2 separate regions of the Homo sapiens genome follow, and region 2 is linked to region 1. The links come from fine-mapping of genetic effects on gene expression. Tissue or cell type: whole blood. Region 1 holds a variant in brackets; the other region holds the start of a gene. All regions are shown on one strand. Distances are from middle to middle.

Region 1 (2,840 bases):
GCGTGGAGATGCTGATCAAGGAGCAGATGAGGAAATACAAAGTGAAGATGGAGGAGATCAGCCAACTGGAGGCTGCAGAGAGTATCGCCTTCCGCAGGCTTTCGCTCCTGCGACAAAATGCTGTGAGTACCGGTGATCGTGGGGGCGGGACCTCTTTGGTGGGGCGGAGCCTGGTGCTGGGCAGGGCCTTGGGCGTGGCTTTGTTGCTGGGAAGGCTGGTGAGTGGGGTCTTGGTGGGCGGGGCCTTGGGTGGGCAGGACCTCCCATGCCGAGGATGGGACCGGGTAGTGGGTGTGGTCTCGGGTAGCAGGGCGGGGCCTCCCTTCCCAGTTCCCCGCCCACTCCTACCACACCCTTGGCCACAACCAGCCTGGCTGGGGCCACCAGGCCCTGCAGGTAGGGGCAGACTTACTGCCTTGAACGAAAGACGATGGTCCTCGCTCAGCCTCACTCCAATTATGTTCCTCTAGGTGGGGCAGGTAGGGGGACCAGCTTCCTGCTTGCTGGTGGTTCAGGTCATGCGTCCAGCCTTGTCCCTTCTGACCTGGGCCCTACCCACGGGGAAATGTTCCCATAGCAGAAGAATCAGCCCCACAGTGCAGGGGTGTGTTAGTGGGGAACGGGCTCTGGGCTCCTGTGGGAACCAGGGACCCCCTATCTTGGTACCGGTCATTGGATGTATCCCCAGCTCATGCCTGTGTCTGTCTTGGCCCGTGTGGTCACCCTGTGTTCATCTCTCTCCCAGCCATGGCCTCTCAAACTGGGGTTTTCGTCTCCCTATGAGGGGGTCCTGGTATGTACGCGTTCGGTGGGCCCGCGGTGCATGTCTCCCGGTGCAGTGCATGCTGGGGTTCCCTGGGGCCCTGGGCCCCTCGTAGGATAGACAGAGCCTGTCCTAACCTTCCGGAAGTGCATGCTGGGGAGGCCCCTTGCCTGCTGACCTTCTGTGCTCAGGACGACTAATCGGCCACATGACCACCACTCTGTCCCATGGGATTCCTAGAGAAGTCTCACTAAGAGCCCAGCACACTCACATCACAACTAACCTCCTGGGATCTGCTCACACCTCCGGCAGTAACCTCGCCCACTCAGAGATGTCAGTGGGACCCCTTGCTTCTTTGTTTCAGAACAAGAGCCCCAAGACCCGGGACATCCAGGAGGAGGAGCTGGAGGTGCTGCTGGAGGAGGAGGCAGCCGGCGGCGATGAGGACCGGGAAAAGGAGATTCTCATTGAACGGATCCAGTCCATCAAGGAGGAGAAGCAAGTGGCTCAGTCCCCTCCCTCAGTCCTTCATGTTTAGGGCAAGCTGGAGTGCAGGTTCCATCCCTGGTGGTCCGCTTGACCTCGCCAGGTTTGGTCCTGTCATCCCTAACACTGGGCAAACAACACTTTTTTTTTTTTTTTTTTTTTTTTTGAGACGGCGTCTCGCTCTGTCGCCCAGCTGGAGTGCAGTGGTGCTATCTCGGCTCACTGCAACCTCCATCTCCCGGGTTCAAGCGATTCTCTGCCTCAGCCTCCGAGTAGCTGGGATTACAGGTGCCCACCACCATGCCCTGCTAATTTTGTGTTTTTAATAGAGACAGGGTTTCACCACATTGGCCAGGCTGGTCTTGAACTCCTGACCTCAAGTGATCCACCCACCTTGGCCTCCCAAAGTGTTGGGATTACAGGC[G/A]TGAGCCACCGCACTCGGCCTTTATTTCTGAGACAGGGTCTTTCTCTGTCACCCAGGCTGGATTGCAGTGGTGCGATCACGGTTCACTGCAGCCACAATCCCCTAGGCTCACGGGGTCCTCCCACCTCAGCCTCCCCAGTAGCCGGAACCACAGGTGGTGCACACCACCACGCCTGGCTAATTTTTTTTACTTTTTGCAGAACAGGGTCCGCCTATGTTGCCCAGGCTGGGTTCAAACTCCTGGGCTCAAGCAATCCTCCTGCTTGGGGTGGGGGGAGGTTGGGGACACAGAGTTACATCTAGGAGCAGGACAGCCTGCTCTGTTCCACACTGGCCCAGCACTTCCGGTGGGGTGGCCTTGGACACCACTACCCTTTTTCCTCCAGGGAGGACATCACCTACCGGCTGCCGGAGCTGGACCCAAGGGGCTCGGACGAGGAGAACCTGGACTCGGAGACGTCGGCCAGCACCGAGAGCCTGCTGGAGGAGCGGGCCGGGCGGGGGGCCTCGGAAGGTCAGTATTAAGGTAGCGTCTGCTTTTCTCCTTCCCGTCCATCCCAGCAGGCCCCAGGGCGAGGGTCCTCCGGCTGCCGGCCCTGAAGCTGCAGTAACCCTGCCATCTGTCTCTCAAAAGGGCCCCCTGCGCCTGCTCTCCCTTGCCCCGGCGCGCCCACCCCGAGCCCCCTCCCCACCGTGGCCGCCCCTCCACGACGAAGGCCGTCGTCCTTCGTAACGGTCAGAGTGAAGACCCCCCGGCGGACCCCCATCATGCCCACGGCCAACATCAAGCTCCCACCAGGCCTGCCCTCCCACCTGCCTCGCTGGGCACCGGGTGCCCGGGAGGCGGCTGCCCCAGTGCGGCGCCGGGAGCCACCTGCCCGCCGCCCGGACCAGATACATTCCGTGTACATCACGCCCGGGGCAGACCTGCCAGTGCAGGGCGCCCTGGAGCCCCTAGAAGAGGATGGCCAGCCACCTGGGGCCAAGCGGAGGTACTCGGATCCCCCAACGTACTGCCTGCCCCCCGCCTCGGGCCAGACCAATGGCTGAGAGCCACAGCTGACAAAGTCTGCATGTCCGAGGACGGCCCCTGCACTGGAGCTGGGCGCCAGAGCTGCAGAGCTAGTGTTCGGCCCTCAGAGAAGGATCCAGAATCAAAAGCTCAAG
Region 2 (2,665 bases), 130 kb before region 1:
TGGCCAATTTCACTTCAGTTTGCACCTGGCACAATCAACACTGGCAGAATTAACAAAACTAGACAAATATAGCCTCATGATCATTCATGCCTAGCTCTCGGTCAGTATTCAACTTCTTTCTTGTTCATGGTGTGTTACCCTAGGCAAGTCACTTCCCCTCCCTGGGTCTCCATCATCTCCTCAGTAAACTGGGAGCACAGAATAAAGCGCGTGGGAGGATTAAAGGGGACACTTTGGTCGCCCAACACTTGTTCACTGCATAACGATAATTCCAAGAGCGACATCACAGTAAAGACCCAGGCGCCGATCTAAGCGCGTTTCAGCCTCACGCGACGCCTACGAGGTTGAGCTGCGTCATCGGCCCCATTTCGTAGCGGAGGAAAGCGAGGCACTGGGCGGTCAGGCCGCTTGCCGGAGGTCGCCCAGCGTCCCAGCCGAGGACGCGGAACTCAGGGCCGGTCGGGTGTCAGCGCTCCGGAGCATGCGCAGAGGCAGCACGCCATCGGGGTCTTCAGGGGCCCGCGCAGTTCCTGGCGGGGTCGAACCCGAACTCACCCCGAGGGTCCTAACTCCCCACCTCCGCTGCCCATCCTCTCCAGCCCTATGGCGTCTACAAATCCAGACCTGCGGAAGCCCCAACTCACCCAGCGCCTCGCCCCGAGGAATCCGCCATTTTCCCGCCTTCCACCTCAAGGCCCGACCCGCCGGCTTTTCAAAGCCGGACCCGCCCCCTTGCTTGCGGGTCGGACCATTTGTGGAGACGCAGGAGGGGTGGCTGCGAGGCGTGAGGCAGCGCCGGCTAAGTGTGGAGAGCGCGGCCCCAGACGCGCGCTTCGCCTGTCCTCCCCTCGCACTTGGTCTCGCCCACCATCGGCGGTAGTGGGTAGGGGCGGTGGGTGGGACCTGATCTGTCGGACAGTAGGGGCGGGGCTTTTCGCGATGCCCCGCCCCTAGGAGCGCTGGCGTCACGCCCCCGTCCCCGCCTCTCCGGAACCCGGAAGCGGGAGCGCGCGGGGGAGCGGCGGGCGCGGCGGGGCGGAGCGGCTCGAGCAGCGGCGGGCTGGCAGGCGGTCGTCCGGCCGGGGACCCGGCCCGGGACCGGCGGCGCGCGGCGGCCGAGGCCAGGTGAGTACCAGGCAGCCTCGGGTTGGCGACTCGAGCTCGAAGCCTGCCTTTGGGGGCTGCGCAGAAGAGGGACGGAGCTGAGGGCTGATGGGGGACGCGACGGCAGGGGTCGAGGGGGCGGGAACGAGCCTGGGGGTCTTGGAGAGATTGCTGGGGATGAGGTGGAAGCGAGACGGTGAAGGAGAAAGTGGATGGGGATGGAGCTGGTGAGGGAGTTCGAGGGCGTGGGGGGGGTGAGTCTTGTGGCTTTGAGCAGCTTCTCTGAAGAGGACGTGGCTTAAGTGGTAATTGGGGGGTCGCAGGAAACGGCGTTGTGGGGAGGCACGGAGGCGGGAACGAGAGGCCCAGGCTGGGGGAGTGGGCAAGGCCAGGGGCGGGACAGCCGGGGTGCGGTTGAGGGGAAGGGGTGCGAGACCGATCTGGGGACGTCTGCCCGCGCGATTGAAGGAAGGGTGTCTGAGAAGAGGGCGGCGCCTGGCCCCCAGTGGGCGCTCAGTAAATGCGGGGGGTTCTGAACTAACTGATGCGGCAGCCGGCTATTGGGAAGCGGGGAAATGGGAGCTGGAAGGGAAGTAAACGGAGTAGAAGTCACGGTAAGAACTGAGGGTAGGCTTAGGGAGGGAGGGCCCGGAGAGGAGGGAAGAGAAGGAAGGGGTTAGAGTGGCCCCGTGCAGATAGATGTTGAGATGCAGCCCCTGGAGATTCCGTCCCCCCACCCTCCCCTCTTGATTCGTGTCCCTCCTGACTTCACACTTAACAGCTGGGTGACCTGGGACGAGTCCCAACACCCTCTGTGCCAGTGTCCTCGTCTTGGAAACTTCACCACCCTCCCCTTAAGACAGGACTAGCAGGATTCTGGGATTCCCTGGATCCAAGGAAGGGACCTCAGGGCCGGTTGTGGGGCCGGAACTGTGTTTCAGGAGGGAGTGTGCATGCACCCTCATGTACAGGACTGTCGCCACCTCCGCAGAGCTGCATCCTTGGACTTAAATGGGTAAAACGACATACAGGAAATCTGTCCCCCGGTTGCTCTGAGCTCAGCCCTGGAGAGGCACGACAGCCACGAGCCCTCCTTTCTTTCCTGGGCACCCTGGAGGCCAGGGGTCTTTAAGGGATGGCTTCTCTGCCTCTTTGTCTGAGGTGGGAGCCCGTGGGGACACTTTCCAGCCAGAGAGTCCCAACTCGGTTTGTTTTTTGATGTTGGAGTCTTCAGAATCTTAAGGTGTCCAGGAGCAGCCGGAGGTGACCTGGGCTACAGGAAAGTTATTCACATCTGACAGGCCTGGCTCTTGTGGCCCTGGCAGGGACTTTGTGCAGGGTGCTTTTGATTGGCATTCATTTCTCCCCTTTCCCAACTGTAGGGATCTTTATCTGGGATCTGCCAGAAGGGCTGGGGAACCCCAGCTTATGTTTAGTTTATAGCTCATTCAGGAGATGAACCCGGATAGCTGGAATATAAAGAGGGCCACAGAAAGATAAGCACCCCCTTCACTTCCAGAATATCCTGGCCTTTAGGAAAGGTGGCTTTGGCCTGGCTTGC

The links. PIP is the estimated chance that this variant, and not a neighbour inherited with it, causes the effect.
Region 2: it holds the start of MYO9B, and the variant in region 1 is fine-mapped to the expression of MYO9B in whole blood (TOPMed, PIP above 0.99).

Annotation. Positions count from the first base shown.
Region 1 is chr19:17,209,588-17,212,427 of GRCh38, forward strand. It overlaps MYO9B (myosin IXB), which reads left to right. Exons shown (of 40, transcript NM_004145.4): 36 at 1-122; 37 at 746-793; 38 at 1,128-1,261; 39 at 2,060-2,187; 40 at 2,308-2,840. The coding sequence ends at 2,723. Among named protein-coding and RNA genes, the nearest start is that of USE1, 4.3 kb to the right of the region's middle. RefSeq lists a silencer at 242-351 and an enhancer at 721-1,226. The variant G/A (reference allele first, on the strand shown) is at 1,674.
Region 2 is chr19:17,074,750-17,077,414 of GRCh38, forward strand. MYO9B (myosin IXB) reads left to right here and starts at 1,028. Exons shown (of 40, transcript NM_004145.4): 1 at 1,028-1,125. It overlaps HAUS8 (HAUS augmin like complex subunit 8), which reads right to left and starts at 703. Exons shown (of 11, transcript NM_033417.2): 1 at 645-703. The coding sequence starts at 673. RefSeq lists an enhancer at 446-645 and silencers at 826-1,175, 1,170-1,464.